3 separate regions of the Homo sapiens genome follow, and regions 1 and 3 are each reported to be linked to region 2. Evidence: microRNA targets listed by miRTarBase, many of them from high-throughput screens and not tested one by one. Region 2 holds a microRNA gene; each other region holds the end of a gene's coding sequence.

Region 1 (4,228 bases), not on the chromosome of region 2:
ATGCACACACACACACACACACATATGTAACTCCACCCAGGATGGAAAGAAAGTCAGTAGTGGCCACGAGATGACAAGATTTCCAGTCTCTTCTGTGACTTTAATATACACCCAAACAAGGAGATGGACTACTAACTCAGGCTGGTCACTCCTGAACCAGGTTCCAGGCAATACTCCAGTTCTGGACATTTTAATAGCTGAAAATAACTAAGACTCCCCTGGCCTCAAGAACTGGGAGAACAGCTGAGTCTTGAGGGAGCTAAATTGGGAAAGGGCAGAGGTAATCCTAAGGAATCCCATGCAAGTCTTGACACTGGAGACAGCAAACCTAAGTTTGAAACACACAGCTTTCCATTCCAGACACTGTCAGCTCTAGAAAGATGGTATATGCAACAGGAAATCACTTTCTGGATTAAACTCTTCAGACTCGATGAGTGGGGTTACCTTTCTAGTTACAGATGTTAAAACATTCTTTTGTTTTCCATCCTGAAGTGGATTTTACAAGGTACCTCACCCACTTTGTAGTATGTCTAAAGCAGACTAACACTACTGACTTTTTTTTTGAGATGGAGTTTCGCTCTTGTTGCCCAGGCTGGAGCAGAGTGGCTTGATCTCGGCTCGACACAGCCTCCACTTCCCAGGTTCAAGCGATTCTCCTGCCTCAGCCTCTTGAGTAGTTGGGATTACAGGTGCCTGCCACCACGCCTGACTAATTTTTTGTATTTTTAGTAGAGATGGGGTTTCGCCATGTTGGGTAGGCTGGTCTCGAATTCCTGACCTCAGGTGATCCACCCGCCTCGGCCTCCCAAAGTGCTGGGATTACAGGTGTGAGCCACTGCGCTAGGCCACTACTGACTTTCTTTCCAGAAAAGACTCATTCTCCTAAGGCAGGACATGCTGTTGTTACATTATTACATTTTATAGCCCTCAGGGCCTACTAGGCAGACTAATCCCATGATGCGATTTGCCACAAGTAAAGCACAGAATAGAGTCAGGCAGGAATGACAAAGGAGTCAAAGGAAAAACTAGGCAATGGAAGCCTGGGCTGCGGAATAACAACTTGCAACTTCACAGACATCTCATCCCTTCTCCAGACTAGAGAAGCCTTAGGGTAAATCCTAGCTCTGACACTTACTAGCTGTGTGAATTTGGGTAAATTACTTAACCTCTAAACCATTTCTAATCTGTACAAAATCTTGTAGTATCTACTTGCTTCTTCAGTTGTGGGAAGGGAGATACAGCAGAAAAAGTGTTTGGCACAATGCTGGTTTACAGCAGCCCTCAACCATCAGTGGTGCTATTATTTTCCGCAAGAAGGTGAAGGGCCATAAAAGGCCTATACAGCTGCTGAAGTTCATTGCTAAAGGTATCCAAGGCTCAAATATTTCAAGTGCAAGCTAGACATGAAATTCACAGCTATCTCTGTGAATCACCCTTGATTCCTTCACTCCCTGTGAGTTAGTCACATACACTGTAGAAATGCTGTTACTCAGGCCCTTCCTATTTACCAGGACTTCATTTTAATGTAGACGCTTTCCTGTGTGGTTTGTTCAGAAAGTCTTCTAAATCTGTCCTAATTGCCAAGTTATTTAACCCCTGCCTAACCCCCCACCACCAGAAAACCCCCCCATAAAAGCAACTTGCTTAAAACTTTCTCTCAAGTCTCCCATGCCTAGTAGGTAAGGTCTGAGTATTTTACTTTAGCATACAAGGCCATTCACAACCTGAATTAACATGGTTTTCTGAGCCTTACTTGTCACTTCCAACTCTCCAATCTAACACATCTTTCCTGTTCTTCTAACATATTTCAGTCTTTCAAACCTTCTCATCATCATGCTCTTCCCTCAGTCTAGAAGAGATGACTTTCTTCTCTACCTCACAAAATCCTACTCAACCTTCAAGACTTAGCTAAAACGCTCTTTTAAATGAAGTCTTTCCTTCAGGCTTTATATATATATATATATATATATATATATATTTTTTTTTTTTTTTTTTTTTTTTTTGAGACAGGGCTTTGTCTTACTGTCCAGGCTGTAGTGCAGTGGTGTGATCATAGCTCATTGCAGCCTCAATCTCCTGGGCTCATGCAATCCTCCCGCCTCGGCCTCCAGAGCAGCTGGAACTACAAGCACATACCACCACGCCCAGCTAACTTTTTTTACTTTTAGTAGAGATGAGGTTTTGCTATGTTGCCCAGGCTGGTCTTGAATTCCTGAGCTCAAGTGATCCTCTTGCCTTGGCCTCCCAAAGTGCTGGATTACAGGTATGACTCACCATGCCCAGCTTACAACTTAATTTTCAACACAGCACTCAACAGAACATTCTATTTCTTATGTCTGCCTTGCCCAATAGCCACTTTTTTTTATTTCAATCATTTTTCTATTTGCCCCACTGTAGCAGTAACACATTTGAAAGTACTTTGTGAAAGTGTAAATTTTAAGGGATTATACCAGTACATATACTGATCTGAAAGAGAAATGGGAAGACTGAAGGCAGAAAATGATGTGGCTTCTTTCCCTTTACCAGTTCAAGGTCTTCATAAATTTTTCTTTTTTTTTCTGTAAAAAAAGAGATGGAGTCTCACTATGTTGCTCAGTCTGGACTTTTGAACTTCTGGGCTCAAGTGATCCTCCTACCTCAGCCTCCCAAGTAGCTGGAACTACAGGCATGTGCTACCATGCCTGGCTTAGATTCTGACCTTAGCAGTCATTATATGAAGGATAACCAGTTTGTAACATGGCCTAAAATAAAATGAACAGTTCTCAGGCAGCCCACCCAAGGAAATTCACACATAATGAGAAACCAGAGATGTGTTAGAGTTAAAAGGGTAAGTATAAAAAGTTTTACTTTTTTTGTGTAATTTTTAATACAAGACATCTAAAGTCTTAAACATTAAGTTGATCCCATCAGGAACAAAATATGGCACGAAGTTCAGAAACAAGAACATCTTTTTTTTTTTTTTTTGCACTTAGGCTTTTCAGTCACTATGCAATGATTATCGATTCGCCAAGGACAGTAACAGTCAAATACTAGAGAAAAGGAGATAGGAGAAACATCTTTTATTTCTTCTAAAGAGGTGAAAATAAGATTTTTTTAATATTTCTCACTCATAAGATTTTTAAACTCTTAAAAATGCAATATCTTCTTTTCAAAGCACATGCCATCTTAAAAAAATCTTAGCAATGTACATTTGCACTCAAAGAAAAACATGCAGCGCCATTGTCTTCTGACAAAATTCTGCATTAAAAAACCCTATGCGACTTTCTGCAAATATATTCCCTCTTTATTATTCAGGGACTCCAAACCACAAACATTCAGTGCAATATTTATCGTTTCTTATTTCCGTAGGAAACACAGAACCAATGATGTCTTCTGACAACTGTTTCCTGATGGTTGAGCAACAGTCTCCCTTTGCTTTATTTTAAAGTACTTTTTTTAACTTGCTGATGTAAGGTATAATTGGAATTCATTAAAACTTGAGGATCCAATGGAGGGTGAAGAATGAAGGATGGAGGAGGAATACTTAAGGTCTACCCTGTGCCATAAACTTAGGAAAAAAATGTACACAGAAAAAAACGACAACCAAAAAACCTCAGATTTTATCAATGCACCCTTTAAAAAGTGTTTTTTTAATTTCTGAAAGCAGCTTAATGTGAATCAAAAGCAGTTCCTGAGCAACTGCAGTAAACAGTCTTTTAAAATATATATGTACATACACATGTACATATATGTGTGTGTGTGTATATATATATATTTGCAACTTAGCTCATTTGGTTCTGTCTTAATTTACCTCCCCAGCATTTAGTCCCTTCTTTCCTTTCAGTCTCCAATGTGCAAGTACAATAGCATCAGCTCTGGGAGTTGGCGTGGAGCAGATGTTTCTTATCACTCCTGTGAGGTCATCTGCTTGTCTGTCAGGCCAGGTTTCCAGAGTTGCTGCAGGTCATAGTTCTCTCAATCTCACAAAACCTGTAAGCATCATGGCCACCTCACGTTTTCTTCATCAGACGCCGTGACTGCCATGTGTGGAGCTTGTTGTAGGCTGTCTGGAGCATCTCTTCTATGTGACTTACCAACTGAAAAACACAGCAAGACACTTAACAACTGGGCAAAAGCAGGGGAAGTTAATCCTTCCAACCCAAATCTGGCACACACTTCAGAGTGTAGTTTCGGAGCTCCTCTGTATTTCCCCAGTCAATGAGGTAATGTGCAAGCCCTCTGAGAAGGT
Region 2 (4,244 bases):
TGATGAACAGATGAACTACATGTGGTCTCTCCATGCAGTGGAATAGCATTTGACCATAACAAGGAATGAAACACAGATCTATGCTGCGTGGCAGTATCTTGAAAACACTACACTCAGTGAGAGAAGTCAATCACAAAAGGCCACATACTGTATGACTCCATTTATGTGAAATGTCCGGAACAGACATATTCATAGACAGAAAGTAGATGAGTGGCTTCCAAGGGCTGGGGGAAGGGAGAATGAGGTGAGACTACTAATAAGTACAGAGTTTCTTTTGGGGGAGACAAAATGTTCCAAAATTAGATTGTGAGGATGATTGCACAACTTTTTCAATACACCAAAACCCATTGAATTGTATACTTTAAAAGAATGAATTTTATGATGCGTGAATTAGATCTCAATAAAGATGATTTTAAAATGTTTTCTGAGGGGCTGGGTGCAGTGGCTCATGCCTGTAATCCCAGCACTTTGGGAGGGTGAGCTGGGTGGATCACCTGAGGCCAGAAGTTCAAGACCAGCCTGGCCAACATGGTGAAACCCTGTCTCTACTAAAAATACAAAAATTAGCCAGGTGTGGTGGTGCACGTCTGGATTCCCAGCTACTCGGGAGGCTCAGGTACGAGTATTGCTTGAACCCCGGAGATGGAGGTTACAGTGAGACGAGATCACGCCACTGCACTCCAGCCTGGGGGACAGAGCAACACTCCATCTCAATAAATAAATAAATAAATGTTTTCTGAGGATCCCTGGTTTTCAGAGTGTTCAGGGAGTTGGTGGGGGTGGGGGACGTGTCATGAAAATATAAGTTTAGTGAATGCAGGCTAAGCAAGTCCAGCAACAGTTTTGATACAGGTCTTCTCAGAGACTTTAATTTGTGGATATAACTAGTGATACTCCCAAAAGGAGTATGTACTAATACCAGATAATGCTTATTGAGTATTCGCAGTGTTCTAGTCATCTATTAGCTTATTTATATGTATATTAACTAATTTACTCCTCACATTAGCCCTCTGAGATGGACCCTATTATTCCACTTTAGAAATGGAAAAACTGGGGCACAGAGAGGTTGAGAATCCTGCCCAAGATCACACAGCTAACAAGAGGCAAAGCCAAGATCTGAACTTAAATAGCCTTGCTCTGGGATTCACGCTAGACTGCTTATCTTGGTACAGTGTACAACATTTCCAAAACAGGTTTGACCATAGCTTACTTGAATAGGAACAATCTCAAAGGATCTGCCTTCTCTCCATCCTTGAGGTCTGCCTCCTGGATCTAGAAGCATCTCTCACTGAGACAAGTGCAACATCTTCCCCATCTCCTTACCTCCACTCTCCCTCCCCACACTGCACTCTCCTTTTTTAACACACACGACATCCTTCCCTTGCTTCAGACCCTCTGATGGCCTCCCACCACTCTTAGACCAGCGTTTCTCAACCTCAGCACTATCAATATCTGGGACTGATGAGTTCTCTGTGGTAGGGGCTGTCCTGTGCTTTGCAGGACATAGGCAGCATCCCTGGCCCCTTCCCACTAGATGCCAGGAGCAACTGCCCCCAAATGGGTGGCAACCAAAAATGTCTCCCAACATTGCCAAATGTCCTTTGAGGGGCAAAATCGCCCCCACTGGAATCACTGCCTTAGAACAGAGTCCTGTTTCCTCACTGTGGCCGATAGACGTCCCCGCTCATCTCTCCATCAACGTTGGCCTGCTCTCTGCCCTTTAAGTTCTCCCAGTGAATCTCTCCGCAGGGCCTTTGCATAGCTCCTCGCTCCCTCTGCCTGGAGCTCGTCCCCTCAGATCTTCTTCATAGCTAAGGCTTTAGCTCCAAGGCCCTCACCTGAGACAGGTTTCTTCTGCCCTCCTCTCTCCCACCTTCATTGCACTTTCCTGCCCAGTCACCCACTTTCCTACCACACAGATTGTTTTTCCCTCTAACACACTGTGATTGAACTTAAATTGTGTATTTTTTTTCCTTCTTTGTTTTTCTTTAGACATGGGGTCTCCTTCTGTCACCCAAGCTGGAATGCAGTGACTTGATCATAGCTCACTGCAGCCTCAACCTCCCGGGCTCCAGTGATCCTCCTGCCTCAGCCTCCCAAGTAGCTAGGACTACTGGCATGAGCCACAATGTCCAGCTAATTTTTTAAAAAAATGTTTTGCAGAGATGGGGTCTCAATGTGTTGCCCAGCCTGGTCTCAAACTCCTGGGCTCAAGTGATCTTCCTGCCTCAGCCTCCCAAAACGATGGGATTACAGGCATGAGCCACTGTTCCTGGACTTTTTTTTTTTTTAATCTGCCTTCCCCAGCAATGTGTGTGCAGGAACTTGGTGATGCCAAGCTTGGTTGAATCTCCAGTACTAAGAAGGGCCCTGGGAACCATGAAGGTGCTTAAACCATTTGTTGGATGAATCATAAGCCTGCCAATGTGTAAATTGGGCAGCCCTTCTGGTGTGTGCCTAGGAGTGGAAGAGACAGAGATGTGGAAAGGAAAACACCTTTTGGGGTTTCATCGCCTTGGGTTTGAACACTGGACATGCCTTCTGGTCCTTTGCAAAAGTGCCTCTTTCTCCCAAAACCAGTTGCCAAGAAGTCTTAAAAAATGGAAAACAAACAATAAAAAAGAAAACGAAGAAGCGAAGGGAGAGAAGGAAAATTACTTCAGTTTTAAAAGTCTCCTTAAATCAGAGCAAGTCTCTGTTTAATGTTGACTGATTTTCAAATAAAGCAGAGATGAGGTTTTGGAGCTAGCTGGAAAACACTTGTGATGGGGTGTCTCTAGGTCAGGGCCTCAGGATTCCAACCAAGGGGGAGGGTGGAGGAGAGCAATTAGCAGCTCAGCGAGGGTGTGAGGAGGAAAGAAATAAAGAGCAGAGAGGATGAGTCAGGCTGGGCTGTGGCACAAAGCCACCCTGCGTGCTAACAAGCAGAAAGCGAACCAGGTCGGGGAACCTCCCCTGCAAATCCCCAGGGCGACTCAGTGCAGCAGAGGGAAGCTGCTTTTTCTAAAGCCCTCCTCAGCTTTCTCCATCTGGGTCTGTAGTCTGTGAAGGGATTTTGCAGGCTGCAGAGATTTTGCTCAGCATGACTTATCCTCCCGGGCTTGGCTGCTACTTCAGTGAATGAGAGGCTGAGATTGAGGCTAGCTCTGAAGTTCTCAACCTGGAAGCCCCAGCCAGAGGAGTTCTGGAAGGTTACAATGGAGGTTCTAAATATTTTAAACCTAGGCCGGGCACGGTGGCTCATGCCTGTAATCCTAGCACTTTGGGAGGCCAAGGTGGGCGGATCACCTGAGGTCAGGAGTTCAAGACCAGCCTGGCCAACATGGCGAAACCCCATCTCTACTAAAAATACAAAAATTAGCTGGGCATGGTGGTGGGTACCTGTAATCTCAGCTACTCAGGAAGCTGAGGCAGGAGAATCACTTGAGCCCGGGAGGCGGAGGTTGCAGTGAGCTGGAGATCACACCACTGCACTCCAGCCTGGGCGACAGAGCAGGACTCTGCCTAAAAATAAAAAATAAATATTTCAAACCACCTACGAAATATTTTTATGAAAAAAAAATCAAACCAGAAACAGTTAAGCCTCCAAATTCAACTCTCAATTTATAAGAAATACCTGAAACAGAAAAACATAGTAAATTATATCACAGGGATGCAATCCCCAAACTCCTAATTGCACAAAACTCTCTGGGACTAATGACTCAGTTTCTTCAACAAGTAAATTGCAAGGAAAGAAAACTGGAGAAGAACCTATAGAATTTAGGAGACTTAAGAGTCATATCAACCAACAGCCATGTGTGGATGGACCTTATTCGCATCTTGATGAAAACAAACTAAACAAACATAACAAATGCCGCATGGTCTCGCTTATATGTGAAATCTAAAAAAGCCAAACTCATAGAAGTGGGAGTAGCATGGTAAGCAACAGAGTGGGGGCTAGGGGACTGGGGAGATAGGGGTCAAAAGATATAAAATTCCAGTTAGACAGGCTGAATAAGGTCAAGAGATCTACTGTACAACATGGTGCCTAGGTAGTTCATGACAAGCTATTGTATTCTTGAAAATCGCTGAGAGTACATTTTAGGACTACCTGTGTGTGTTCTCACCACAAAAAAATGATAAGTATGTGAGCTAAGGTGTATGTTCATTAGCATGATTTAGCTAATCAAGCTAAATATGGATACAGATTTCAAAACAACATGTTGTATAGGATAGATATACACAATTTTTATTTGTCAATTAAA
Region 3 (4,244 bases), not on the chromosome of region 2:
AGGTTCCTATTCGCCAAAGCCGAGCTAGTGTTTTTGTCACTGCCAGATGCCCAAACTGCCAGAAACTAGGCATGAAGTGGCTAGTCGATTATACTGGACACAGTAATAGACATGCCAGGTCTTTTTGTTGTTGTTGTCGTTCACATTGCATTTTTAAGACTTAGAGTTTCACTGGCGTGGCATCATATATAACTTCGTATCAGACCAGGGGATGTCCTTTACAGCAAAGGAGGCATGGGGGTAGGCCCATGATCATGCAATCCACAAGCCTTATTATATATTGAATCAACCAGAAGCTTCCTGATAGAGTATTGGAAGGGCCTGTTAATTAGCATCAGCATGGAGGTGATATTCTTGAGAATAGGCTGTCATTTAAGATGCAGTATACAGTTGGAGTTCAAGATGTTTTTATGGTGCTATGCCCCCGACAAAATAAGTCTGGCAACCCATGAGTGGAACAGGAGTAGACCTGCTTGCCGTCACTTATTTGACCCTCTTGAATGTGTTTCCTACCTCAGCGACTCCTGTTGAATTATAAGCTGCGACCACCACCCGGCCGTTTTGAGTTCCTTGTGCCAATAACCCAACAGGCAGAATCACTATGTGGGGTAATTGATCCTGATCCCTCTTCAGTAACTTGTTGCCCCAGCTTCTGGGAGTACTGACAGTAAACAGCTTTCAACTTCTACTGTCAGCTCCTTCAGGGATTGTGTCAGCTGAGGAGCCTCGTTGCCCACAGTCATGCTCCTTCCTAGAGTGACCCATACTCAAATGACTTATTGGTCATCTTCACCTAGCAACTCTTGAAAAGCTGCCTGTGGGGTCAACTGGTGTCCAAAGGCACCCCTTAGAAAACATCTGCATACCAAATTCCATCTCAGTCTGCCTCCTGTGGGAACCCAAAAGTCATACCATGAGGGCCTCGTGGTATGACTTTTTATAGACTTTTGTCTATATATGTATAGACAAATATATATATTATACATATATATTATATAGACATATATATATATGTATATGTATGTGTATATATATTTTTGTAAAAACGAAGTTTAGCTATGCTGCCCAGGCTGACCTTGAACTCCTGATCACAAGTGATCCTCCTATCTCAGCTTCCCAAAGTACTGGGATTACAGGTATGAGCCAGTGCCCAGCTAAGCCCAGGAGTCTGAGGCCACAGTGAGCTGACTGCACCATGGTAACCAGGCCTGGACAAGAGAGACCTAGTATCAAAACAACAACAACAAAAACAATAAAAAAAAAAAAAAAGAAAAAAAAAGAAAAACCACACACACAACAAACAAAAACAAAAAGGCAAAGAACCTTCTGGGTAAACACTACCTTGGCTGTGCCTTGGTAAAAAATAGGAAAAACTACCCCTACCTCTAGGTAGATGCACCTCATTGCCAGGACACACTACTTGCTGCAAATAACCTGCCTTCATCTCACTGGCTGGGTGCCCATCTGCATAGCTGCACAGCACAATCCAAACTGTATGTGGTGGCCCAAGTAAACTGAAATTATTCCAAGTAAACTGAAATTTAAGCACTTGAAAAAAGCTGAATACTCATTATGAAGACCATGTGGTGTTCCAAAAGTCCAATATCCAGTGTCAAATAGTTTAACAACTTTTACTGAAGGGTTCAGACTTTTTCTCCTTAGTAAGTATAACTTAATGTAAAATGATGCCCAGAGTACCACTGTAAATTGAAGACACTTTTTTTTTTTTTTTTTTTGAGACGGAGTCTCGCTCTGTCACCAGGCTGGAGTGCAATGGCACAATCTCGGCTCGCTGCAATTTCTGCCTCCGGGGTTCAAGCGATTCTCCTGCCTCAGCCTCCCAAGTAGCTGGGATTACAGGAGCGCACCACCATGCCCAGCGAATTTTTTGTAGTTTAGTAGAGACAGGGTTTCATCATGTTGGCCAGGATGGTCTCGATCTCCTGACCTCGTGATCCGCCCGCCTTGGCCTCTCAAAGTGCTGGGATTACAGGCGTGAGCCACCGCGCCCAGCCAGACACTGTTACTCTTAAAGTCAAAGGATCATACAGTGACTTTACATACCTTTCAGTTATTTGGAAAATTTGGGGAACACTGATAACTAAAGGGAAATAAACCTGCAAATAATTTTCCAAGTTCCATTTAGATTTTTCAAAGGTTGTCTACGAAACCTTACGTATGTTTACACATACATACATGTATTTGTGATAGAAAATGGAACAATAATTTACAATGGAAACAGGGTTTGCGTGTATGCACTGTAAAGACTCTTTTATTGAGCCTACTTCAGGTACTGGTATGAAAAACAAAGGTGTTAAAAAGCCAGTGTTCATTGATGTTATCCAAATGATCAAAATAATGTATGCAGGAAAAGCATATGAATTAGTCCTGTACTGAGAATCATATATTTCAAAAAAATTAAGATTAGTAACCTAATTTTTAGTGACAATAGATTCATGTACTATGCAATAGAACCAATTGAATGTCACTGGTGGTAGTCTTACTCCTACAAGAACATACTCAAAGGCAAATGCCTTATATCCACAGATTCAAATTGAAATTTCTTATATTTGAATTTTCTCTTCTCCAAATGCTTGTATCAGTAAGTGCCAGATCAAGGCAATCCTTGTATATATCCCAAAACTGTATCTATAATTCAATGCCATCCTTTTCTCCTTCATCTCCTACCAAATTAGGGGGTAGAGTCAACTTTTTTTTTTTTGAGATGGAGTCTCACTCTGTCACCCAGTCTGGAATACAGTGGCACAATCTTGGCTCACTGCAACCTGCACTTCCCAGGTTCAAGCAATTCTCAGCCTCTGGAGGGAGTAGCTGGGACTACAGGCGCATGCCGCCATGCCCAGCTAATTTTTTGTATTTTTAGTAGACAAGGTTTCACCATGTTGGCCAGGATGGTCTTGATCTTCTGACCTCGTGATCAGCCTGCCTCGGCCTCCCAAAGTGCTGGGATCCTGTGGCATGAGCCACAGGAGAGTCAACTTTTGAATATTATTAAAGTTATTTACAAGGTAAGTAATTAAAAATAGCAGATAAATTATATTCCACTTGGTAGCCTGGTTAAGTCCTTCCTTCATGGCTTCCAGTTACCCCTATACATAATCTAATTACTCAGCACCAAAATACTAGCATGGTCCACCAGTGACCCTCAAGTGTCAATATTTCTGATGATTTCCAGAATTCAAGCATAGAAATGTATTTTTCCTTTCTGTATGAAATTTAGGTTTTTCAAGGCAAGGTCATGTTATCCTGATAATCTTTTAAAATTTACAATACAACTAGAATATCCAAATGTATAATGCTAAGTTTGATATTCCCCAAATTGCACTTCACTGGTGGTTTTCAGTGACAAAGCAAATTATTATTCATTGTAATTCTCAGGAAACAATTACGAACATATATATAATGTAAAACAAGACCAGTCACAAGTTTATTCTGTAATTTTTCTTTAACAGGTATTCAATTCTGTAGAAAATTGCAAATATTTATTTTTAATATTTACATTTGGGTCTGTAAACAAAGCTGGTAAAAAAATCCTAAGAATTTCCATACATATTTATAAAAATTTCAAGAATATGATCCTTATCACTTCTGAAAAGTATGCATTTTTTAAATTCTAAAAGCCAGTAAATGTAGAAGTTGAAGGGGACGAGAAAAACGCTGTTAACAGATTATCTGAATTTTCCTCTTCCCAAATATCTAAAACATTGCATATACCACTCTTTTCTGTGTAGCTTGTGAAACCCAAAAATTCTGATTTCTCTTCACTAGTCTGAAACAAGTCTAGTAAAGACTGTACCGGTGAACTACAAATTCTGTTTTCTTCTTGTGTAATAAATTCAGTTCTTTTATCAAATTCAGCATTTGGTTCCAGATTTTCTTTTCTATTTCGTCCTAATATTATTTTCACTTTTCGATGTATTTTACCAGAAGGTAAACTATCCATATTCTTGAAGTCACATTCATTGGGTTCCTCAGGAGGAGTATGGAATGGAGCCTTTGCCTGAACAGTTAGGTGCTCTTGTGAACTGTTTATTGTTATCAGACCAGAATCATGAGTAAATATTGAATGAAGGTCCTTTTCCTTGAGATCCTTTGCTGGAAAAAGCACAGTATCTGACTTCTGTTTTGGTTGAGATCCACTATTATCTGTACTGAAATCAGAAACATGTACAGATGCCTGTATGTTACATTTATAGTGATCTACCCTTAGTTCTTCTAAGTCA

What was found. The annotated mature microRNA hsa-miR-4325 reads UUGCACUUGUCUCAGUGA and lies in region 2 at 1,286-1,303, opposite strand. An mRNA with a match to its seed (bases 2 to 7 or 8) in the 3' UTR can be bound and repressed. Matches are read on the target gene's strand: a 7mer-m8 pairs with bases 2 to 8, a 7mer-A1 pairs with bases 2 to 7 and ends in A, and an 8mer does both.
Region 1: the mRNA of GTF2H1 is a reported target of hsa-miR-4325. Seed matches in the 3' UTR shown: 7mer-A1 at 3,191-3,197 and 8mer at 2,963-2,970.
Region 3: the mRNA of DBF4 is a reported target of hsa-miR-4325. Seed matches in the 3' UTR shown: 8mer at 3,341-3,348 and 7mer-m8 at 2,788-2,794.

The regions. Positions count from the first base shown.
Region 1 is chr11:18,365,631-18,369,858 of GRCh38, reverse strand. GTF2H1 (general transcription factor IIH subunit 1) reads right to left here. Exons shown (of 15, transcript NM_005316.4): 15 at 2,814-4,076. The coding sequence ends at 3,990. Among named protein-coding and RNA genes, the nearest start is that of MIR3159, 20 kb to the left of the region's middle.
Region 2 is chr20:57,320,279-57,324,522 of GRCh38, forward strand. MIR4325 (microRNA 4325) reads right to left here and starts at 1,313; the gene lies at 1,224-1,313. The region is part of intron 2 of LOC105372687 (a long non-coding RNA gene); the gene reads right to left.
Region 3 is chr7:87,907,554-87,911,797 of GRCh38, reverse strand. DBF4 (DBF4-CDC7 kinase regulatory subunit) reads right to left here. Exons shown (of 12, transcript NM_006716.4): 12 at 2,245-4,244. The coding sequence ends at 3,635. Among named protein-coding and RNA genes, the nearest start is that of ADAM22, 25 kb to the left of the region's middle.